Linked DNA regions of Homo sapiens. The protein of the gene in region 1 interacts with the protein of each later gene in a biochemical or structural test. Each region holds a gene or a part of one and is shown in the gene's direction. Other genes may lie near its edges.

Region 1 (7,049 bases):
TTTCAATATTTTTATTATGAATTAGGAGTTGTAGAATCAGCGTTTTTTTGAAACCATTACAATAAAAATATTACTTTGAACTGAAACATTTTGGTTCTATGCTCAAAAGATGAGTTTGCAAGATTTTTTGTCATAGTAATATGAGCTGTTCTTGGAAGGGTCGAGAGTGTGGACAAGAGGGTTGGGCAGAGTTGATTTTTTTTTTTTTTTGGGAGACCGAGTTTTGCTCTTGTTGCCCGGGCTGGAGTGCAATGGCGCGATCTCGGGTCACTGCAACCTTTGCCTCCCGGGTTCAAGCGATTCTTCTGCCTCAGCTTCCCGAGTAGCTGGGATTACAGGCACGTGCCACCACACCCGGCAAATTTTTGAATTTTAAGTAGAGACGGGCTTTCGCCGTGTTGGTCATGTTGGTCTCGAACCCCTAACCTCAAGTGATCCACCCGCTTTGGCCTCCCAAAGTACTGGGATTACAGGTGTGAGCCACTGCACCTGGCCAGAGTTGAACTTTTTATACCATGTCATCTGTTATAGATAGGCAAAACTAGGGCATCTGAGTTAAATGAGATAACAAAAGACTTGTAGTAAAAGAAAAGAATTAGTTCTGTTATTGCATTTTATAAGACTATTAAGAAACAGGCTTTCAAACTCTGTTGTGCGTCTGATATTCTGAGTTATAAAGCACTAAAAGACTTTTTTAAATTGAGCTTTTGATATCAAGCTGTGACACAAGATTTTTTTGGTCAAGTTGGTAGTGTCAAGCCAGAGTGTAAAGTTATTGTAAGAAAAGTGAAACAGCTGTTTGGAAAGATCTTGTGTATTTGCAGTATGTCAGAGGGTAATTGGGGGAAAAAAAACTTAGGCTCAATAATTTTCTAACATTGTCTTTAACTCTTGAATTTCATAAAATGTTGCCTCTATCTCTAGAAAGTAGAAAGTAGTAGACTTTAATAGATGATGGATTGGCAAGAGAAGAAAATGAGAACGTGGTGGCTTTTTCAAAAGATAATTTCCAAGAGTATGTTGCATTTTCGGTCTTTTGTCACCTTCTGTGCAACCAACTCCTACACTTCTGAGTGTAAGACTGACCCAGCTTCAGAGCAAGACTTTTCCTCAAAAGCAGAAATTTTTTTTTTTATCTTTTGTCTTAAAAATTAAGACTTTTTTTATGTGAGGTATTTGAGGTGGGAAGATAATGAAGACCAATCAGTGACAGAAAGTGGAGCATTCATTACCTCAGTTAAGTTTGCTATAAAAGCATTTTACCATGGTCACTGCATGTTCTCTCATCTCTTAAATATTTTAAAAGTGTCTAACATCTAATGACACTCGGATTAGATGTTACAAGGAAATCTATGAATCCTTTGTCAAAAAAAAGTTCTTTGTTTTACTTTTTAGGTCGCAGACGTTTCTTGTAAATATTTTAAAACATAAACTGGAAAATTTAGGTTTGAAGACCTATTTATTGTTTGTTCAAGATTGTTCAAAGTTTTCCTTTTGAAAAAAAGGAAGCTTGAGTTAATTACAGTTAATAAGCCAGATGGAAGAATTGAAGTTGCAACTCAATCCTAGAAAATTTAGATGAACTTCTTAATTCTTAGTGCTTATTTCAGTAAGTTGAAATGAGTGATACGCACAATATCAAGCCATTTCCTTATTTATCATAGCTAACTTATTTTTTGTCTTAACACAGCTACAGAAAGATCTAGAAGAGGTAAAGGTGTTGCTGGAAAAGGCTACTAGGAAAAGAGTACGTGATGCCCTTACAGCTGAAAAATCCAAGATTGAGACAGAAATCAAGAACAAGATGCAACAGAAATCACAGAAGAAAGCAGAACTTCTTGATAATGAAAAACCAGCTGCTGTGGTTGCTCCCATTACAACGGGCTATACGGTGAAAATCAGTAATTATGGTATGACTTGCTTCCCTATAGCCAGTTCTGCCTCCGAGCAACCTATTCCTCATAGTGGTCTAACAAATTCATCCCCAATGAGTTTTGAGTCTGTGTTTTTGGTGGTTTGGAGCAAGACCCATCAGTTTTTATTTAATAAAACTTTTTTAAGATATAAATAGGAAAGGATGCGTTCTAGAAGCTGTTAACAAGAGTAAGGTGATTCACTACAAAATGTAACAACAAGGAAGGAACTTATTCTGAAATTGTTCAGTATAAGACACAGCTTTGGTGGTGGTGGTGGTGGTGGTGGTTTTTAATCATGTTTTATGTTTCACTCTGCCAACCACCACAATTAACTGAGGAGAGGAATCCAGTTAAATTCAGGAAATATTTTTGAGCACCTAATGTGTATCACTATTGTGCTTTGACTTACGGATACACAACAGTGACTAAGACCCAGTCCTTGCTCATGTTGTGGTTGGGACATTGACGTATAACTCGTAGTATAACAATGTAGTAATACTGTTTTCCTTCAATGGTGTATACAGTTTTTTGTTTTGGCGGCAGCGCAACTTGAATATGAATGATGAGCTCTCATTGGAGCAAGGACAGTCTTGTTTTTCTTTGTGCTAATAATGTCTAGCACATAATAGGTAACATAGCTGAAGAAATAATTCTGGAGGTGAGGAACAGGGAGAATTAGAGAGATTTGAGTGTGAAGGGTGAGTCGTACATTCAGCAAGTCAAAAAGGAGGGGAACAGCATGAGCAGAGAATGTGAATAGAGAGTTGGAAGGCATGATCTATTTTGAATATTGTTAATAGTGAAAAGCATGTGTATGTCGTGCTTAAGAGATGTACTATATAGTAATATAGGAAATTGCACCGTGTACTCAGTTGAGTATAGGAAACTGGTCTGAAGGTGTTGAGGATTATGGTATTTTAACCAGGAACATAGATTTGTGTTGAGGGAGAAACTTGTCAATCCGGAGGATGGACTGACTGAATGGGAAGAAACTATTAATAAATGAAGTTCTCTGGACCCCACTAGGGCATTTTTTCATCAACACTGTTTCTTTTTAATTTTCGAGGGTACATAGTAGGTGTATATATTTATGGGGTACATGAGATGTTTGATATAGGCATGCAATGTGAAAAACGTCATGGAGGATGGGGCATGTTTCTATTCTATAGGACTAAGTGAGCAATAGTCAGGGATATGTATGTATATATTCTTGATAAACAGAAGATGCTTTTTTGTGAAGTTTTTTATTTTCTACAAATGTGATGGTATTTTGTGAAGTATTTATATATATGTCTTTTATGTTGACAGAGTTCTTCTAGGTCAGAGACGTGCTGGTAGTTTGATAATACATACTGAAATGGCATTTAACAGATACCAGTAGGTTTGTCAGATTTGGATGAAGAATTGGAGTCTTTTACATTCTACTTTGCCCTGGAAAGGAATTAAGAGAGCTAGGATTCCATTTGTTTGACTACTTACAGAAGTAGAAATGGTTATGGAATTAGTATTGATACTTAGCCATCCAGCTTAGTGGAGAACTACCAATATTTAGATGTCGGACAAAATTGTTTCCATAAAAGCTGTAAATGAACTAATCTTAAAGAATGTATTTAGTGATCATATTTTTATTCTGAGGGATAAAAAGAGCATAGGTTTTGTATTCAGAAACCTGGATTTGAATCTGAATTCTACCACTTGTTAGATGCCTAGCTTTGGGTAGAGTACTTAACTGCTTTGAGGCTCCATTTCTCAACCTAGAAAATTTCTTATATTTCAAATTTTTTCATGTTTATATGACTGGATTTTCATAATTTTACTTTCCTGACTTATGAGCCATGTGCATTTGCTGTTCTAAAGATAGTTTCAGAGGCTTACTTACGTCCCATCTTTTGTTGTCGTTGCCAGGATGGGATCAGTCAGATAAGTTTGTGAAAATCTACATTACCTTAACTGGAGTTCATCAAGTTCCCACTGAGAATGTGCAGGTGCATTTCACAGAGAGGTGAGTTCTCATTATAATGGGAAAGACAGTGAATTAACAGTCAACATTGCCTTATCTTGAGACTCTCTTCTTTGCAGTTTTTAAAATTCTTAAATTTAGAATTAATTATCCTTTACAACTACTTTGAAGAGGTGAGCGTTAACTGGCCAAATGCACACCCTGAAATAAAGCCAGCAGCTTTTTTCCCACAAGAACTATGGAGTAAGGGTACCTTTCATAGAACTAGAAAGATGATGTATTCACCATTGTGTTGCAGGTCATTTGATCTTTTGGTAAAGAATCTAAATGGGAAGAGTTACTCCATGATTGTGAACAATCTCTTGAAACCCATCTCTGTGGAAGGCAGTTCAAAAAAAGTGAGTGTGCTTTTTTTGATTGTAATATTGTGAAACCTTACCAAATTGAACCTGGCTGATTTAGAACTGAGATGAACTGGAATGAATTTGTCCTCTGTAACAGGGACCACCGCCTGTTTTGTGAATGTTTTATTGGGACATAGCCAGGCTTATTTGTTCATGTGTTGTTTGTGGATGCTTTTGTGCTACAATGGCAGAGTTAAGTGGCTACAGCAGACCATATGGCCCTAAATGAAACCTAAAATATTTACTATGCGGCCCTCGACAGAGAACATTTGCCAACTCCTTTTGTAGAATAGGCTATTGTAAGAATATTCCATTAAAATCAGGGAGGAAGTAAACGTTTGAAGGTAGTTAAGAGTGAGACTTGAGTTTTATGCCAGGTTTACAGCTTATTGTTTGTGACCTTTGGCAGCTTAATCACTCTGTGCCTCAGTTTCTGCATTTATGCGATAGTAATAATTTATTTCACAAAGTTGAAATGATACACTGAAGTGCAATACCATTATGTAAAGTGCTTAAATTAATGCTAGTGTTAGCATTGTGCATAATACTCGTATACATAAAAGGAGGTCTTAAGCACTTAGCCTCCTTGGAGTTAGAAGCAGCTATAAAAATAAGGAAACTGTCTTTTAAAAACTACTCTTTGTAATTTTTACTAAATCAGATAGTCCCTGTTTTCTGCCTAATGTGAATAAATGAAGTTTAATGCGTTAGGTATATAGACATGACATTCTGCCATCTGTTTTTATAATACATAATTACTTAACAGCTTACAGGTGATACTCAAATATAGTTGGATTCGCTGTCTTACTGCACCCTTCTGCATCCGCTAGTCCCATAGGTAGAGTACCAAAAGATCCCTAGTATTGATCATTGTTTAAAAGACCTGTACATTGCCCTTCTTTCTCACTTTCAAATGCCTCACCTTGCCCCATACTGCCTTATACGACTTGGTTTCTTGCCTATCCCCGACCCCTCTTATTATATTACTGTCTTTTTCAGTCACTAAAATCCAGCCACTCCTCCTGCTCCTCAAACACACCAAGATGATCCCATCTTGGAGCCATTCTGCATGCTCTGCCAACTGCCTTCTCCTGACCTTAGGCTTCGGCTCAGATTTGCCTCAGAGAGGCCTTCCTAATGAAGTTCCTGCCCCCACCCCCCATTAACACCCGCTTTGTCTTGATAGCACTTTCCAGGATATCAGGGTATTCAAGTTTTACTTATTTATGGTCTTTTCACACCATGAATGTTCAGATTTTGGCCTATTCATACAAGTATTACTGGCACCCAAAATAAGTCTATACATACTAGGGACTTGATCAATTGAATAGATAATTGTTTTATAAATATTCATGCTTATCTCCATGTCTTCTAAGCTGTATTTGTTTTCCTGCTTTTCTTCCAGGTCAAGACTGATACAGTTCTTATATTGTGTAGAAAGAAAGTGGAAAACACAAGGTGGGATTACCTGACCCAGGTTGAAAAGGAGTGCAAAGAAAAAGAGTGAGTCTACTTCCATTTTTTTAAAGAATTTTAGTGTATTGTTTGAGATCATGGATTTTTAATAGTTTGTCTTTATGGATAATGTATTTCTGCTTTCAACTGTCAAACTACCTGAAGAGGGCACGTCCAGCAAGTTGCTTTTTAAGGTCTTTGTAGTTAAGGGTTGGCTCTTTAGTGTGGTTCTTAACCCTAGGCGCAGTTGTGCTTCTATACAAATAACTGTGCCCATTCCCAGATACTCTGTTTCGGTAGTTTGAGAGGGGCTTAGGTACCCCTGTATGTTTTAAATTTCTCAGATGCTTCTGATGCGTAGTTTTCATTGTCACTGGTTTATAGTGAAAAAGATAAAATATTTTTATCCTTCTTAATAATGACCTTTTAAAAATGTGTATTCAATGATACTTGCGTTCTAGGTCAGTTCATCTTCTAAAGGTACTGACTAAATTAATTCAAGACCCAGGCCCAGATCTGTGTATCTCAGGCTTAAGAGGAGAGTTTTTCTAATTAAAAAATACATGAGCTTCAGGGTACATCCATGTGTAATGTTTATGATTTTCCCTCAAGTGTTTTTTTTCAAATTATGAGGAAACATGCTTTTAAAAAATGAAAACAAGTTAGAAAATCAAATTCTTATTTTACCTGTCAAAAATCACAGGAGGCCAGGTGGGGTGGCTCACGCCTGTAATCCTAGCACTTTGGGAGGCTGAGGCGGGCGGATCACCTGAGGTCAGGAGTTTGAGACCAGCCTGGCCAACATGGTGAAACTCTGTCTCTACTAAAAATACAAAAATTAGCCGGGCATGGTGGCATGTGCCTGTAATCCCAGCTACTCGGGAGGCTGAGGCAGACAGAATTGTTTGAACCTGGGAGGCGGAGGTTGCAGTGAACCGAGATGCGCCACTGCACTCCAGCCTGGGCAACAGAGCAGGACTGTCTCAAAAAAAAAAAAAAAAAAAAAATCATGGGAAATCCCTGTGCCTAAAAATAGCCCCTAACTATTTTGATGACCTCTTTCGTGCACCAAGTGTGTGCATGCTTGATACGTGTGTGTTGTTTTCATTAAGATGAATTTGTGCGTGCCGTTTTGATTGTAAATATCTTTGGGTACTCTGTCTTCCTTCTTATCCCTCTACTTCCTGCCAGTGTTAACAACCTGAATGATAGTATCTTCCGGTGCTTTCGTTTCCCCATTGTTGTATATGTTTTCTTTTTAAAGGAAGCCCTCCTATGACACTGAAACAGATCCTAGTGAGGGATTGATGAATG
Region 2 (7,289 bases), on another chromosome or scaffold:
AGCAATAGCAGCTGCTGCCGTGTCATTATGCAAAGCCTCTGACCAGTTTGCTGCAGCATTTACATCTGCCCTAATCAGAGGGGCCACCTCTAACTCCTCCTCCTCCTCTCTTCTCCTCTGGTTTGCGTCCTTCCTGGGTTGGGCTGGAGTCTGGACTGGCTGAGATAAGAGCCTGGCAACCAGCAAGAGCTGGGCTGTATTTGGAGATCATGGGCTGATTCCATGTTCTTGGGCAACAGTCCAGAAGCATCAGGGGCTCCGGCCTGGGATGTTTCTGAACTTTGGGAGTTATAGGAGACAGGAGGAACTTCTCCTCCTCCTCCTCCCCTACAATTCCTTTTCACATATTCCTTTCTTCTCCCTCTTGGGTGACCTTCCAAAACTCTGCTCTCAGGCTGAAATCTGGCATCATCTCAGGTTCCCTGTCCCCAGCACTGTCCCCATGGAGCTGGTGGCTGACAAAGATGTAGTTTCCATCAGTCAATAAAACCTGAGAGGAGAGATGAGGACTGAGAGTATCTCCTGGCTCTGTGGGTTTGGGGGCTGGGTTGGGCTTGGGGGTTGAAAACACTCTGATTTCAATCCCTTTTGGCTAGGAGAAGGGCTGGTATGGGTCAAGGTATGGGAGATGGATGGTTGGTGATGTATTCTGGAAGATGGGGATCCAGGAGAAATGAAAGAGTGTGGTTTGAGGAGTTCATCTACAGCCAGTGAGACAGGCCAGGGGGTCCTGAGACATTCCTCCTTGGATATCATCTGCGCCAGCTTCCTGATTCACAGATCGGGAAACTGAGACCCAGAGAAACACATAGTTAGTTAGAGGAGGCTTAAACCCAGGCTTCCTGACAGCAAACAACCCTGAATTTAACCCTAATAAAAGCATCACTTTGTTTGGTGAATTTCCCTTCCTTGTGGACGCCCCCTACATTCTCTCTTCTGGGCTACTGGCTACACTAGGCTAGTGTGTGGCTGAGTTCTATAGAGCACTGAGCAGACAGACCATGGATTCAGGTTGATCTGGGTTCCAATCCCTGGGTGAGAGAATCACTTACCTTCTCTTGCCTCAGGTTGCTAGTCTGTGAAATAGGGATAATTCATTTAGTCACCAAATATTTATTAACTTCCATCATGTGCCAGCCCTAGGGATACAAAGGTGGGCAAAGTAGACATTGTCTCTGATGTATAGTTGAGCATGGAAGGCAGACAAGTAATTACAACATGGTGTGGCAGAACTAAGATCCATGTGTTATAGAGGCATGCAGATGGCAGGAGAACTTAACCTGGCCAACACACAGGGAATGAGTTGGAGTTAGCCAGGCAGCAAATGAAAGGATGCAATGTTCTGGGCAGAGGGAACAGCATGTGCAATGACCTGGAGGTTGGAGAGTGAGCTCAGGCCTTTGGGGAACTGAAAGTAGTTCAGTCCAGCTGGGGAGGAGAGTGTGAGGCTGTGAGGAGAGGAAGGATGGAGAGGTAGGCTAGATAATAAAAAGCTTTGAAGCTATGACGCGAATTTTAAACTTCATCCTAAAGATAGTGGGGACCTCTAAAGACTTAAACAGAAAACTCATGATGAAGTTTGTGTTTCAGAATGATCATTCTGGCTGTGGAGAGTGGATATAGAGAAACAGTCCTGGAAGGAAGAAAAGTAGGGTGGAGGCTTTTATAATAGTCCAGGTGGTAGGGGACAGTGGCTTGGACCAGAGTAGTGGCAGTAGAATTGGAGAGTCTAGAGATTTGGGAGGCAGAATTGGCAGGACTTGGGATTGACAGGCATGTGGGAGTTGAGGAAGAGGGAGCAGTCAAAGTTGACTCCCAGTTTCTGGCTTGGACGACGGCTGGATGGGAGTGCTATTCCCTGGTAAAGGGAACATCAGAGCTGTCAGCACTCAGTGCTAGGTACATAGTAAGTACTTGGTGAAGGGTAGCCATGATTGCTATCATGAGTTCAGTTTTAGATGTGTAGTGAGTGAAATATATGGGGCTGGAGTGAGATGATCATGAGAAGATTCAATGTGATAATGTGCATAGGCATTTGGCACAGAGCCCTGAACACAACAGGCCCGGTAAACGTGAAAGTCCCCTCCTATTAAGTCTCATGAGCAGAAAACACTACTTAGAGCCCATTTATTACTTACACCTTTCAGGGAAGAATTTCAACTAGGGTTAGTATCTCAAGGGAGGCAAGGCTATACTCAAAACAGCTTTCCCATGGTCTCTTTCAGTCAACCTGTTGTATGGTTTGTCTCCTAAGACTGGAAGTGAACTCCAAATACCTTCTTGGTTCATCAGCTCATCTGAACCCCATAACCATTCCCTGAGGTAGTCTGGGCAGGTATTATCATTCCTGTTTTACACATGGGTAATCTCAAAAGTGACACAATGACTTGCTCAAGGTCATACAGTTGGTAATGGTCCATCTGTGCCTGGAACTGAGGTCTTTCTGGCTCCAAAGCCTGGGATCCTTCCACTGCACCACCATGCAGACTACTTTATTGAACACTTCCTATGTGCTGGGCACAGCACCAGGCCCTTCACAAGCATTAATCTCTGATCCTCGGATTAGAATTATTGCCAATTTATAGAATAGAAATTAAGGATGGGTGCTCACTTCGCACCACATATACTAAAATTAGAACGATACAGAGATTAGCATGGCACTATGCGAAAGGATGACACGCAAATACGTGAAGCGTTCTATAAAAAAGTAAACAACAACAACAAAAATTGAGGACGGGGTGGGTTTTAAATGACTGACAAAGATCACTCAGACAGGAAGGGCAGAGCTAGGATTAGCGTGTAGCTCTCCAGCTACTCAATAGCAGGGATTCTGCCAACCCCATTTTGAGACGCTGACTGGTGACAGAGCTTTCATAAACCTCGATCGACCCAAGCAAACTCAGTTTTAGAAAAAGGCTGGGCTTGGCCAGGCGCGGTGACTAACGCCTGTAATCCCAGCACTCTGGGAAGCCGAGGCGGGAGGATCGCTTGAGCCCGGGAGCTGGAGATCAGCCTGGGCAACATAGTGAGACTTTGTCCCTACAAAAAAGTGAAAAAAAAATTAGCCGGTCGTAGTGGTGCGCGCCTGTGGTCCCAGCTATTCGGGAGGCTGAGGCGGGAGGATCGCTTGAACCTGGGAGTTGGAGTTTGCAGTGAGCTATGATCGCGCCACTGCATTCCAACCTGGGCGACAGAGTGAGACCCCTGTCTCAATTAGGAAAAAAAAAAAAAAAAAAAAAAAAAAAGGCTGGGCCGCGCCTGCGCACTAGCCATAGGGGCGGGGAGGTCAACGCGAGGCCGAGAGTGCTGTGGTGCCAGAGAAGGCGTGTCTGTTTCCCAAACAACCACTGTCCCCACGGCGCCTGTCTGTCCCAAGGTTGGTCGGTATGCCGCGAGTGACGGCGTCTCTTAACCAATCACCGCAGAACTCAGGCTGTTGCCGGGGCGAAGCGGTGTCCGCCTCCCCCGGAAGGGTATTTGTAGGTGGGTGGGACCGGAAGTGACGCTACAGGGGCCAGCTATGCTCCCGGGAGTGTTGATGTTTTCCAGTCATTCCGGCTGACAGCGTTCAAGTTGGAATCCTGGAGGGGAGGTGTTTTTCCTGTCGTACGTGGGACAGGCCACGCTGTCCGTCCGCAGTACCGACGCCTGCAGGTCAGAGCTTCGGGGAGAAAAGTGAAGAGCAAGACGGAACTGACGGGGAGAAAGGCTGGGAACCAGGGTGTCGACTTTGACTGAAATTTGAGACGGAGGGCACCGGAGGGCGAGCACTCGCCTGTGATTGGCCCGTGGGCGTCGTCGAGGTCCCACGCAGCTGCTCAATTGGTTGGTGTTGCAATTGTTGTGGCGGCGGCGGCGGCGATTTTGCCCACGTACTTCCGAGTAAGGGGCGGGGCTGTGCCCTGGCGCGCGTGCGCAGCGCCCCGGGGCCCCACCCGGTAGTGCAAGAACCTGCGAGGGGGCGGAGCGAAGAGGTGCTTGTTTTGGTTCTGTTTCCTTTGAAGCAGAAGGCCGGAACAAGCGTAGCAATAAACTTGCTGGACTTGGAGAGAAGGCTAAGACAAACTCGCCGCACTGCCTTCATCTTGGACTTTACATCCGGGTTCTCCTCTCGGCGTGACCCGCGCGCCGCCACCGCCGCCGCCGCCGCCGCCGCCTCCTCCGCCGCCGAGGGTTCTCGAACCGGTGCCGCGATCCCTTTATCCGGGTCTCGCCGTTCCCGTCGTGCCTCGCGCACTACACTAGCCCCCTCATCCGGGTTCTCTCCCGGCGTGCCCCGCGCCGGGTTTGTTGGGGGGTACTCGGCAGTGCAGCCATGACTATACTCCCCAAAAAGAAGCCGCCGCCTCCCGACGCCGACCCCGCCAACGAGCCGCCGCCGCCCGGGCCGATGCCCCCGGCGCCGCGGCGCGGCGGAGGTGTGGGCGTGGGCGGCGGCGGCACGGGCGTGGGCGGCGGCGATCGCGACCGTGACTCCGGCGTCGTGGGGGCCCGTCCGCGAGCTTCGCCACCGCCTCAAGGCCCGCTACCAGGACCGCCGGGCGCTCTTCATCGCTGGGCGCTGGCCGTGCCGCCTGGTGCAGTGGCGGGTCCCCGGCCACAACAGGCTTCTCCACCTCCTTGCGGGGGCCCAGGTGGTCCCGGCGGCGGTCCCGGCGACGCGCTGGGCGCAGCGGCGGCGGGTGTGGGTGCCGCGGGCGTGGTGGTGGGTGTGGGTGGTGCCGTAGGCGTGGGCGGCTGCTGCTCCGGGCCTGGGCACAGCAAGCGGCGACGTCAAGCTCCCGGGGTTGGCGCGGTTGGCGGGGGCAGTCCCGAGCGTGAGGAGGTCGGCGCAGGCTACAACAGTGAGGACGAGTATGAGGCGGCTGCAGCACGCATCGAGGCTATGGACCCTGCCACTGTCGAGCAGGTAAGAGCTGTGGGGTGAGGGGTGAGCGGCCACGGCAGATGGGACCCCCAGACTGTGAAGGGACTCAAGGAAGGCTGTTTGAGATCGCCCCAAGGGATCTAGGCGTTTTCACTGGGCCTGACAGTCTTCTCTGGCGGTAGGGATGTGAGACACCTTCTTTCCTCCCCTCCAGGATTTTGGGGCTAGAGGCCTACGGTAAGGTGTCAGACTTAAAGATCCGAGGTCTCTTTTAAGGTCTATAGTCGTCATTCCAGTCCCTGGGACCTCATCATATAGGGCCAATAGGTGGGAATTCTCCAAGAGATACAGGTAGGATCGCGCCCCTCTTGAGTAGGAGTCTCAGGTCTCCCAAGAGACTTAGGTATGTGTTCAGTGGCTTAAGAGCTCTTTTCCTCTGGGATAGAAGTTTGAGATTCCCCTTCCAGGAAAGTCAAATAAGGTGGAGACCTCGGAGATCGGGGCTGAACATCCCCAAGGAGCCTAAGCCCTTTCAAGAGTCTGAGACACTCTGCATATAGGACAATCCTCTCCCGCTTCGCTGGGTAACACTGCACAGGACCACTGAATAGCCAGACCTGAGACCTCAAGGGTCCTAAGTCTGTCTTCAGGGGCCTGAGAGTCCTGCTTCTAGAATCAAGGTCCTGACACACACACACACACACACGCCCCCTTTAAGGATAGGGATCTTCTAAGCTTTTTCCAGGGATGTAAGACTTTTCACAGGGAGATATGATTCCCTTGCCCTTGGGGACAGGGACCAAAACCAACACCCAATGACCAGCAGCTTTACTTATCTCCTTTCTGAGTGACAAAGGTCTGCATTTCCTATCAGTGGCCTGAGACCTACCTCTTGGGAGACAAGGGCCTGAACCGCTTCAGGATCTTAAGCTTCTTGTAAGAAGAGATGGGCCCTCAGCACCCCCACCAGGGGCCTGAACCTTTCTTCAGGAAAATGAGACTCACAGCGTTGGATCCTAGGGCCTAAGATCCACCTGCTTATGGACTGAGGTTTTTAGAGACCGAGTCTGAGGCCTCTTCAGGGGCCTGGTGTCCTGCTGCAAAGGTCTCAGACAAGGTGAAGTCTTTAGGAGATCCTTCTTCTCAAGGCTGGTGTCTGAGTGGTTTTGGGGATCTGAGACTCCCCACCCCACGAGCATATGTGACCCTTTTACCCCAATTATAAGGAACTGAAACATACCTTGGGGATACAGTATCCCATTTTCCCCTCTGTAACAGGGGTTTGAGGCCCTCCCACCTTGGGCCTAAGCTTTTTGTCAGGGACATACGACCCATGCCTTGGGAACTTGAGCCTGAGACGACTACTCAGGGGACATGGGCAACATGGGATCCCAGAGATGATGTCTGGGGCCTCCCTACAGATCTTTGCCTACTTTTAAGGGCCTGAGACCCACTCTGCCAAGGACACTTGAGCTTTCCTTCAGGGACAGGAGACTCATACATACCTTGGTGACTTGTGTGTCTAGAGGTAAGGTCTGAGCTTCCTCCTCAAGGAACTTAAGATGTACACCTGAGAAACAGGAGGACTCCTCCCCCCAGACCTGAGCCCTGAGACTCTTCCCTTGGGGCATGGATAAAGGATCCCTGTGGAACAGGGTCCTGAGTCTACCTCCAAGGGTTTGAATCATAACTCAGGTGTGTGAAGGCCTGTTCCCCACCTTAGGACCTGATTTCTGAACCTGCCCTGAGGGTACTGTCACCTCACCTCAGACAACTTACATACACCCTAGTCTTAGGGGTCATTTAGGGACATAAGACTTCCTGCCTCGGGGACTTGGGCCTTAGACTCCCAACTCCTTTTGGGGACATGAATAGGGTAGGATTCTGAGGAAAAGAGTCTGGGCCCAAGCTTTCTCTCTGGGACAAGATACCGTTTGCCTTAGGGACTGGGGGCCTGGCTCCCACTTGGGCATGAGGCTCTCCTCCTACCACACCAGGCAATCCTTTCTGTCCAGGGAGAGGAACGTGAGGTCATCCTCTCCCATTGGACAGAAGGACCTGGATGCTCTTCAGGGTCATATGAACCCCTTATCCAGAGCTCCCTCGTGGCCAGGGCCAAGAAGGTCCTCCTACTTTCTATGAGAAGATTGTCAGGTCCTGGGGACATGGAGTCTGGAGCCTCCCTTCTGAAACCAAGAGCGATTCCGAGTCTCTCCCTGACCTAGCTATGCTTGCTTCTCACCTCTAGGTCATATAATAAGTTTTGAACTGCTTTTGACAAGCTTTTTTCTTCCCAGGGACAGGAAAGGGGTTTGGGACATCGCCACTCTGGGGAAATTCTCCTCCCACATTCCTTTTCCCCTTGGCTCAGGTAAATCTTTCTGTACTTCACAGGGGCCCCAAGCCTTGTCTTGAGCTCCTT
Region 3 (3,293 bases), on another chromosome or scaffold:
TGATTATTTTAATATGGAGGTGGGAGTGTGGTTGGAGATAGAAAGGCTCCTCCCCACCATGTAATGGCTTCCTCTCAGAATTTTATTCCAGGCTAGCTTGCTGCAGGTCTGGGTAGTTGGATCATGGCTCCACTGGGATTGGGGTGGAAAGCTTGAGGGGAGTAGGGTTCCAGCTCTGGGACATTGTGCTCAGGAATTTGAAAACGCTGCTATACTTACTCTGGTTACTACATTTCTTCCACTCCCCTTTCCCCTACCTGCCTTAACCAAGGCTCATACTGTCCTGTCCTTACCCTCAGATGGAGCCAGGAAGCTCAGTGAAAGGCTTCCCTACCCTTTGCACTAGTGTCTCTGCAGGTTGCTGGTTGTGTTGTATGTGCTGTTCCATGGTGTTGACTGCACTAATAATAAACCTTTTACTCAACTCTCTAAATTCTTCAGCATTACTCCCTTTCTTGAGAAGGTTTCCCCTCTGCTTTTGCCTTTCTCTCACCTTAATTCCCTTTCTTCCTTACTTTGTTACCTACCCTTATCTTAGTGCTAACTTCTCTTTCAGGAGGATGTCTGGGAGTAGTGTGCACTTCACAGCTGCTTTCCCATGTACCCTCCTGCATTCTTCCCTCCTATCTCCTGTTCTGTAGCAGCCAAAGCTCTCTAGTGATCTGAACTGTGTGCTTCCCAGGGTCTGCCTTTATCCTAAATTCCATGTCTTCCCTGAGTGGTCCTGAGTTTTTGGGATAATTTCTACAGAAGATATGTATATATCTTTTTCCTTTGTCCCACAAGCAACTTTGCTTTAGAATCTAGAATTCCTTTGCAGGCAGAGAAGTCTCTACCTCCCAGTGTTTCCTAGCTAAGAACGTAAATGTGAGGAGGGAAATGTACTTGCAGAGGTTTCATAATTATTTACTTATAAAAATAGTCTTCATAGCCGGGCGCGGTGGCTCACGCCTGTAATCCCAGCACTTTGGGAGGCCGAGGTGGGTGGATCACAAGGTCAGGAGTTCGAGACCATCCTGGCTAACACAGTGAAACCCCGTCTCTACTAAAAATACAAAAAATTAGCCGGGCGTGGTGGCAGGCACCTGTAGTCCCAGCTACTTAGGAGGCTGAGGCAGGAGAATGGCGTGAACCCGGGAGGCAGAGCTTGCAGTGAGCAGAGATTGGGCCACTGCATTCCAGCCTGGGCGACAGAGCAAGGCTCCGTCTAAAAAAAAAAAAAAAAAAAAAAGTCTTCATAGGCCGGGCACGGTGGCTCACGTCTGTAATCCCAGCACTTTGGGAGGCCAAGGTGGGTGGATCACAACGTCAGGAGATCGAGACCATCCTGGCTAACATGGTGAAACCCTGTCTCTACTAAAAATATAAATAAATTAGCCGGACAGGCGCCTGTCCTCCCAGCTACTCAGGAGGCTGAGGCAGGAGAATGGTGTGAACCTGGGAGGCGGAGCTTGCAGTGAGCTGAGATCACGCCACTGCACTCCAGCCTGGGCAACAGAGCAAGACTCCGTCTCAAAAAAAAAAAAAAAAAAACCAGTCTTCATAAGTATTTGCTGCTACCTTTCCCTGTCATAAGAAAAAGGATAGCCAGACATGGTGGGACGCCACTATGATCCCAGCTCCTTGGAAGGCTAAGGCACAAGAATCGCTTGAACCTGGGAGGTGGAGGTTGCAGTGAGCTGAGATCATGCCACTGCACTCCAGCCTGGTGACAGAGCAAGAGCCTGTCTCAAAAAAAAAAAAGAAAAGAAAAGAAAAAGGGATATCTTTTCCTCCTCCCAGAAGTTTGTTTTAAATTTGAGCATTTATCATGCACCTGATGTAAACCTAATAGTACTCTTGATACTCTAGTGGCTTGAAAAAAAAAAAAAAGGCATTTCTGTGCTGAGTCTGCGCTTCTATGCACACAAGGTATGTTTATAAAATACTGATAAGCATGTCACAGTATAGAGCATAAGAGGCAATGTATGTATCCTAGTGACATTAGCAGTGCTTTTCCCCCCTTAAACTCCTTTAAAATTACTTTTAGAACTTGCTGCTCATTCTTGTGAATGTTATGAATGGTGTCATATTGTCCTTTTACAGAAGATACGATTTTTAGAAACAAATATTCATTGAATGTCTGCCCTGTGAGATACTCACTAGAGTGAACATGAGGAGGCTTATGTAGCAAAATGGCACCTACCTGCAAAGAACTTAGTCCCTAATGGAGATGAATATATAATAAGGGATCATAAATGTGCTAAGTGGATTTACTAGTAATATGTGAGCCAAGGACGATAAAGCTCCTGATTCTGATGGGTATCAGGAAAGGCTTTTCAGGAAGTGTTACTTGTTATAGGTCAGAGGTCAGCAAACTACAGGTTACAACCCCACTGCCTGCTTTTGTAAAAAACTTTATTGGAATACAGTTATGCCCACTTGTTTATATATTGTCTGTGGCTGCTTTCACATTACAACAGCAGGGTTAAGTAGCTGGAACAAAGCCTAAAATACTTGGTCTTTTACAGAAAAAAATTTGCCAACCTGTTCTAAACTTTTAAGGTCAGGAGAACTGGGGGAAGGAGGGAGTAGAAAGAACACTGTCACCCAGACTGGAGTGCAGTGGCACCATCATATAGCTCACTGTAGCCTCAAACTCCTGGGCTCTAGTGGTCTTCCCACTTCAGCTTCTGGAGTAGCTGGGGCTACTGCACCTGGAATTGTCTTAATCTGTTTTAATACTAGTAAAATTTTTTTTGTTTCATCTCTTTCAGTGACTTTGATACACTGTCTTAATTTTTTTTTTTTTTTTTTTTTTTTTTTTAGATAGGGTCTGGCTCTGTAGCTGAGGCTGGAGTGCATGACGTAATTTTGGCTCACTGCAACCTCCACCTCCCAGGCTCAAGTGATCCTCCTACCTCAGCCTCTTAGGTAGCTGGGACCACAGGCATGCGCCACCACACCGGGCTAATTTTTTGTATTTTTTGTAGAGATGGGGTTTCACCATGTTGCTGAGGCTGGTCTCAAACTCCTGAGCTCAAGGAATCCACCTGCCTTGGCCTCCCAAAGTGCTGGGATTACAAGTGTGAGCCACTGCACCTGGCTTCATTGTCTTAATTTTTTACTTCAGTATATACATTGGAAAAATAAAAATATTTTTGACATTACCTAAATAACAAGTGTTTACAATTAACAATGTATAATGAATAATCTACTACAAACCCATGTTTACATTACCCTAATTGTCCCAAGAAAAGTCTTTTTTTTTTTTTTGACACAGGATCTCACTCTTGTCACCTAGGCTAGAGTGC
Region 4 (7,000 bases), on another chromosome or scaffold:
TGTTTAAAGTTAATGTTTCCCCAGCAGCATTTAGTACAAGCAGTAGAATGCTCTAGTGGACTTAACCATAGCTAAATAAAACTTAATATTCTGTGTCTGTATTTGTTCTTTTCTCTATTCCATATCCTTTAAATTTCAACTCTTAAAACACTGTTGGTTCTGCCTTCACTTTTATTTCCATAAACTCTAAAGTCCTAGTGTCTATAAACTTACTTCATATAAAGCAGCTGTATTAGAAATATAATTAATGTGAGCCACACATGATTTGAAATTTTTTAGAAGCCATACAAAAAAAGGAACCATGAAATGTTAATAGTATAATTTATTTAACCCAGCATACCCCAAATAGTATTATTTCAACATAATCAATATAAAAACTAATAATGAGACATTTTATATCCTTTTTAAAATTTGTACTGTGCCTTCAAAATGTATTTTACACTTTAATAGCACATCTGAATTTGAACTAGCTACATTTCAGTGCTTAACAGCCATATACAGTAATAGATAATGCAGATCAAGAGAATTTCCAACTTTGTTTTACAGGTATTTACATACATCTTTGTAGCCACTCTTAGAGCTAAGTTCCATGGAAGAAACATGTTCTTGAGTACTTACTGTAGTTCAAGGGCACACTGAAGTGTTGTATGTAATTTTGTCATTTAGGCAGGGTGGTGGTTTTCCTATTCACTTCTCTCATACGTAAGAAGTATAAACTCATCCTTCCTTCTGAGAGTTTAGGAAATAATGTTATTGACAATCATCATCAAAACAACCATGTCTAGTGAATTAGAATTGCAATTCTAGATATTTCTTCACTCCACCCTTTTCTTTCTCTTCCCCCCACCCTTTTCTTTCTCTTCCCCACCTCCCGCCAGTAAAGGAAAATTTTTTGTTAGTTAATTGCTAAACTGAATATGTACCACATAGTACATTGCTTAGTTCTTGCACTGCTTTTCTCCTGTGTCGTTTGAATGACTAAGATACCAACTTTCCACAGGAAAGTGATGACCCCATGGCTTATATTCACTTTACTGCTGAAGGGGAAGTTACCTTCAAATCAATTTTATTTGTACCCACATCTGCTCCACGTGGTCTGTTTGACGAATATGGATCTAAAAAGAGCGATTACATTAAGGTGAGTTTTTAAGTAGTACATGCTGCGTTTAAAATTTGAAAGTTTAATTTCCAGAAAGTGACTTTTTTTTGGTCTCTTTAGCTCTATGTGCGCCGTGTATTCATCACAGACGACTTCCATGATATGATGCCTAAATACCTCAATTTTGTCAAGGGTGTGGTAAGTATCTGAAGTTTGGGAGAAGGGGTGATTGTTGTGGGGGTCTGGCAGTGTAGAGTGTTTGTTTGGCTTTGCTTTCTTCCAGTGGTTTTATTGCTCACTGAACTTTCTTTTGCCATCTGAAGGTGGACTCAGATGATCTCCCCTTGAATGTTTCCCGCGAGACTCTTCAGCAACATAAACTGCTTAAGGTAAGTGTCTCTGGGAAGAAACTCTCCACTTTGCTGTTTGATTGGGGTTCAGAGGACAGGCTCCATTTGTGGAGTAAAACCAGATTTTGGGTCTGGTCCATGATTCTTCAGATGAATTTCCTTTCTTTCTGGAGTTATCAGATCCTAAGAATCTGATTCTTTTTCTCCCAACATTTAATAATGAAGTTTCAAACATCTAGAAAAAAATTAAAGAATTGTACAGGTCCAGGATTAACATTTTGTCATCTAGACACATAGCCACCTTTTTATCAAGCCTTTCATTAAACCTTTCCCCTCCAATACTTCCATAATTAGAAGACTCTTTAGTTTTTGAATTTAAAAGTATTTGAAAGTAGCATATTTGTTCACTTCATTTAGATGCTAGAGAGAGAGTATCACTGAGTCCTAAGGTTAGAATATAAACATTAAGGCAATCTTGTGGCTATTTGCACGGACAGCTGAATTTCAGCCCAATCTGAATGAATTGGAGTGCTTCACCATTTCCTGCCCCTCAATAAATGGCAATAACGATATCGTCTTTGTGTTTTTCACACTCCTGCCTGGGTACCTTACATTCTCAAAAGTTGGAGATTAACTTCTCTAATCAGTTATTCTTTCATTGTGTTTAGGTGATTAGGAAGAAGCTTGTTCGTAAAACGCTGGACATGATCAAGAAGATTGCTGATGATAAATACAATGATACTTTTTGGAAAGAATTTGGTACCAACATCAAGCTTGGTGTGATTGAAGACCACTCGAATCGAACACGTCTTGCTAAACTTCTTAGGTTCCAGTCTTCTCATCATCCAACTGACATTACTAGCCTAGACCAGTATGTGGAAAGAATGAAGGAAAAACAAGACAAAATCTACTTCATGGCTGGGTCCAGCAGAAAAGAGGTGAGATGAACTCATAAGTGTTGTCAGCCATTCTGGAAGGTAGCTAGGGATTTATAGCCAACTCTTGAGGGGGAGAAAAGGAAAACTTAATTGTGTAACTGGAGTAGTTATAAGGCCTGGTCAGTCACTGACAGGAAGGTCATTTATATTCTCTGAACCTCTTAATTCTTCACCTGTAAAATGGAGTTTTTAATAATGTATAAACATAGCAGCTGCTAGGATAAACAAATACACCAGGGCCAGACTTGGAAAACTTTGTGACTTCTTAATTTTGTAGGCTGAATCTTCTCCATTTGTTGAGCGACTTCTGAAAAAGGGCTATGAAGTTATTTACCTCACAGAACCTGTGGATGAATACTGTATTCAGGCCCTTCCCGAATTTGATGGGAAGAGGTTCCAGAATGTTGCCAAGGAAGGAGTGAAGTTCGATGAAAGTGAGAAAACTAAGGAGAGTCGTGAAGCAGTTGAGAAAGAATTTGAGCCTCTGCTGAATTGGATGAAAGATAAAGCCCTTAAGGACAAGGTACTGTGGAAATTACAAATTGTGGAAATATTAGTATCAGCATTTAAGAGAAAGTTATTTTGTGAACAAATTAAGCTGCAGCTGGTTACTTTGTAACCATTAGAATGGTAAAAATTTAATTAATGTAATTAAATTATTGGGAGAAAGCTTAAAACTTTCGACAATACTGCTTTGTTAATAACTTGTTACAAATTAAATTTTATGTTTTTAAAAGGTGGTATTTAAACTTCTGACTAGAAAATTCAGATTATCAAGTAAGTGCCCCTACAAATTCTCCTAAACCTTAAGAAAAGCTATTTTTATGACCTGCTTCTGTGTTTATGATCTTAAGTGATAAAGTCTTAGACAGTTGAAAGACAATTGCTCAATGACCTTACCTGTTGATATTAATTTATATGACTTGATTTCTTTCCCTAAGATTGAAAAGGCTGTGGTGTCTCAGCGCCTGACAGAATCTCCGTGTGCTTTGGTGGCCAGCCAGTACGGATGGTCTGGCAACATGGAGAGAATCATGAAAGCACAAGCGTACCAAACGGGCAAGGACATCTCTACAAAGTAAGCATCCTCGGGAAAGTCCCTGCCAGGGCGTTGCCCCTTACCCAATCTTTGTTTTGGAGATAATACCAGCTTCAATACAAAGAGTAAAATTGCCTTAAATGTCTACCACTGTCTACTATAAGGTAGACAACAAGTTTACGAAGGGATTTCTCCTACATTTGATTGAGAAAGAAAAGGTCTTTGACTCATGATTTTCTGATTTTATTGTATTTGATATGTAAATGGGAATTTTCTTAATGTGTTATGCATAGTCTTTACTTTTGCATTGGATTATATGCTTAGCCTAATATCTGAATTTATTTTACATTTTTAAATGTAATAGCTGCACGAGGTTAATGACAACATTCCTCAAGTGAGTTAAGTCCATTTCAAATCACGTCCCCCACACCCCCAAGCATTAAATTATGGGTATCCAGATAGAATGTCTCATAAAGTAGACGGTACAGGACCTGTGAATTAACAGTATTTGAACTCAAGGGCCTATACCTGGAGGTATAGTGAGTCTTTGGTACTCTTTATTTTCAAGAAATATAGTATTTCAAGTTTATGTTTTAATGTCACAGCAATGATCTTGAAAATGACTTCTCCCCTACTTTTATTCTCTCTTCTTTCACCTGGAGTATGTTTCTGATATGCTATCTAGTCATCATCCTTTTTTCCCAAGGCCTAGCTTAAGGATTCTTTTTTTTTTTCCCCCGAGACAGAGTCTTGCTCTGTCACCCAGGCTGGAGTACAGTGGCGCAATCTCTGCTCACTGCAACCTCCGCCTCCTGGGTTCAAGTAATTCTCCTGTCTTAGCCTCCTGAGTAGCTGGGATTACAGGCACCTGTCAGCACACCCGCTAATTTTTGTATTTTTAGTAGAGACGGTGTTTCACCATGTTGGCCAGGCTGGTCTCGAACTCCTGACCTCATGATCCGCCCTCTGCGGCCTCCCAAAGTGCTGGGATTACAGGCGTGGGCCACTGCGCCTGGCCAGGATTATTATTCTTAAAGCCTTTTCTCACAAATGTAGTCTCCATTGTTGTCACAATTCTAAAATTCCATATATGTCTTTTAACTATAAATTTCATGCAGAGAATAGTGTTCTGTTTATCTGATATCCCATTGCAATAGTACAAGGGCCATTTAAAACATGTCCACCTATTAATTTCAGGAAATGATTAATAGGAAGTTACCTTGCATCCAACAAACATGAAGACTTACTATGTCCATGCACTGATGGTCACAGGTAGACATAACTCCTGTCTTTTCTAACATTTAGACTAGTGAAAATGACAAATCAAAGCCAGGCATGGTGACTCACTCCTGTTGTCACTCAGGAGGCTGATGCAGGAGTATCAGTTGATTCCAAGAGTTCGAGGCTGTAGTGTGCTGTAATGGCATTGCACTCTAGCTCTAGCCTGGGTAACATAGCCAGACTCCGTCTCTTTTTTATTTAAAAAAGAGGAAAAAAAGCAAGTCATAATCCGAGCCCTACATAGATAATGGGTACACCAGGATAGGGAAGGATGTGGTTCCTCCCTGTCCTCAGAGCTTTAAACTAGAGAAGAGAGAATAATCACAACCAACAGTAAAAAGCTAAGGATTTTGAAGGTATATTCAAAATGCATTTGGAACTGAGCTCAGATAAAGTTAATTTTTCTTGGAATCATTGGCGAAGGCATCGTGGAGAAGGTATTATTATTGGAGCACAATCCAGAGGCTACATAGATTTTTCTGAACTTGGGGAGGCAGAGCTACAATTACGGTAGTAAGAATAAACTAAGAGGGAACAAACAGGACATTAAATCAGTTCGTCTGTTCAGCAGTGCTCCAGGTACTTGGGACTCATCAGTAAATAAAATAGTTCCCTTCATTTCATTTTTCATCTAACCGTGTCCACTTGCTCCCCACCCCACCTCCCCGTTAAAAGGGAGCAATACAGGCTGGGCACATGGCTCACGTGTGTAATCTCAACACTTTGGGAGGCTGAGGTGAGAGGATCACTTGAGGCCAAGAGTTCAAGACTAGCCTGTGCAATATAGTGATACCCTGTCTCTATAAAAACTAAATAAGGAAACAGTGCAGTCATCCCTTTTTGTCCATGGGGTGTTGGTTCCAGAACATCCCATGGATACCAAAATCCACACATAGTCAAGTCCCTTAGGTAAAGTCGTGCCGTATTTGCATATAACCTATGCACATCTTCCCATGTACTTTAAATAATCTATAGATTACTTTTAATACCTAATGCAATTTAAGTGCTATGTAAATAGCTATTATACTGTATTGGGTTTTTTATTTTTTTCTTGTTTTGCCCTTTCTAATATTTTCAATCCGAGGTTGATTGACTCTGCAGATAAAGTAGACTGGAAAAGTACAGTCGTCCTTAGGTGTATGAGGGAGATTGGTTCTAGGACCCCTGCCAAAATCCACAAATATTCTAGTCCCCCAGTCTGCCCTGTGGAACCCGTGTATATGAAGAGTGGGAGCTCTGTGTGTGTGGATTCCACATCCCAAGAATACGGTATTTTCTATCTGAGTTTGGTTGCTGAACCTGCACATACGGAGGGCGGACTGTATTTATTGGAAAAAAAATAGCATATAAGTTCAAACCTGTGGTGTTCAAGTGTCAATAGTACATTTTGATTTTTTTTTTTTACCAAGAGTTGTTCTGTGTAATTATGAAAGAATAAGGGAAACGTATGAACCCTAAAATTGGATATGTTTTGTTAATGTTCATTTTTATCTCTTAACAGTTACTATGCGAGTCAGAAGAAAACATTTGAAATTAATCCCAGACACCCGCTGATCAGAGACATGCTTCGACGAATTAAGGTAGTATTAAAGCAGTCCTCTTGCTTGTCTTTTAATTTGAGTACTTTGTATCTTTTAATATTAATCTAGTGCATCTTCTTGCATTTCAGGAAGATGAAGATGATAAAACAGTTTTGGATCTTGCTGTGGTTTTGTTTGAAACAGCAACGCTTCGGTCAGGGTATCTTTTACCAGACACTAAAGCATATGGAGATAGAATAGAAAGAATGCTTCGCCTCAGTTTGAACATTGACCCTGATGCAAAGGTTTGTATCCCCAACCTTCCCGCAAAGGCTGGCTGGCTTTCTTTGTTTCTGTTCTTTCAGAATAGGCCTCTCATGATTGAGGGATGTAGCTTTGCGACATTTGCCTAATTTCTACCTTTTGAAAGAATTTTATTGAATGTTTGAATCCCTGTAGTGTCAGGCACTGCACTAGAAACTAAGTCCTCCTTTTACGTCCTCTTTCCTTTTTGCCTGCCTCCTTTTGTTAGCTTGGCTGTTCATTCTAGTTAAGAGGATTTAGTCTGTGGTTCTGAATAAACAGAAGTGACATTAATTATGATTTTATACATATAAATGAGCAAAGTGGAAATAAATCCAAGGCATTAATGGGCCCATAAATGTTGTGTTTAGGTGGAAGAAGAGCCCGAAGAAGAACCTGAAGAGACAGCAGAAGACACAACAGAAGACACAGAGCAAGACGAAGATGAAGAAATGGATGTGGGAACAGAT

Evidence for each region.
Region 2: the proteins of CACYBP (region 1) and OTUD5 form a complex in vitro, tested with the Homo sapiens proteins (one study listed by BioGRID).
Region 3: the proteins of CACYBP (region 1) and RNF41 form a complex in vitro, tested with the Homo sapiens proteins (one study listed by BioGRID).
Region 4: the proteins of CACYBP (region 1) and HSP90B1 form a complex in vitro, tested with the Homo sapiens proteins (one study listed by BioGRID).

The regions. Positions count from the first base shown.
Region 1 is NC_000001.11:175,002,924-175,009,972, forward strand, and holds part of CACYBP (calcyclin-binding protein), read left to right. Parts: intron 1-1,690; coding exon 1,691-1,910; intron 1,911-3,821; coding exon 3,822-3,918; intron 3,919-4,174; coding exon 4,175-4,274; intron 4,275-5,685; coding exon 5,686-5,783; intron 5,784-6,999; coding exon 7,000-7,049. UniProt on the Homo sapiens protein: May be involved in calcium-dependent ubiquitination and subsequent proteasomal degradation of target proteins. Probably serves as a molecular bridge in ubiquitin E3 complexes. Participates in the ubiquitin-mediated degradation of beta-catenin (CTNNB1).
Region 2 is NC_000023.11:48,954,597-48,961,885, reverse strand, and holds the start of OTUD5 (OTU domain-containing protein 5), read left to right. Parts: upstream 1-4,278; 5' UTR 4,279-4,315; coding exon 4,316-4,909; intron 4,910-7,186; exon of another isoform or gene 7,187-7,238; intron 7,239-7,289. UniProt on the Homo sapiens protein: Deubiquitinating enzyme that functions as a negative regulator of the innate immune system. Has peptidase activity towards 'Lys-48'- and 'Lys-63'-linked polyubiquitin chains. Can also cleave 'Lys-11'-linked ubiquitin chains (in vitro).
Region 3 is NC_000012.12:56,201,641-56,204,933, reverse strand, and holds the end of RNF41 (E3 ubiquitin-protein ligase NRDP1), read left to right. Parts: 3' UTR 1-2,755; downstream 2,756-3,293. UniProt on the Homo sapiens protein: Acts as E3 ubiquitin-protein ligase and regulates the degradation of target proteins. Polyubiquitinates MYD88. Negatively regulates MYD88-dependent production of pro-inflammatory cytokines.
Region 4 is NC_000012.12:103,940,410-103,947,409, forward strand, and holds part of HSP90B1 (endoplasmin precursor), read left to right. Parts: intron 1-1,000; coding exon 1,001-1,138; intron 1,139-1,219; coding exon 1,220-1,297; intron 1,298-1,422; coding exon 1,423-1,488; intron 1,489-2,117; coding exon 2,118-2,387; intron 2,388-2,664; coding exon 2,665-2,910; intron 2,911-3,328; coding exon 3,329-3,465; intron 3,466-6,208; coding exon 6,209-6,287; intron 6,288-6,376; coding exon 6,377-6,532; intron 6,533-6,901; coding exon 6,902-7,000.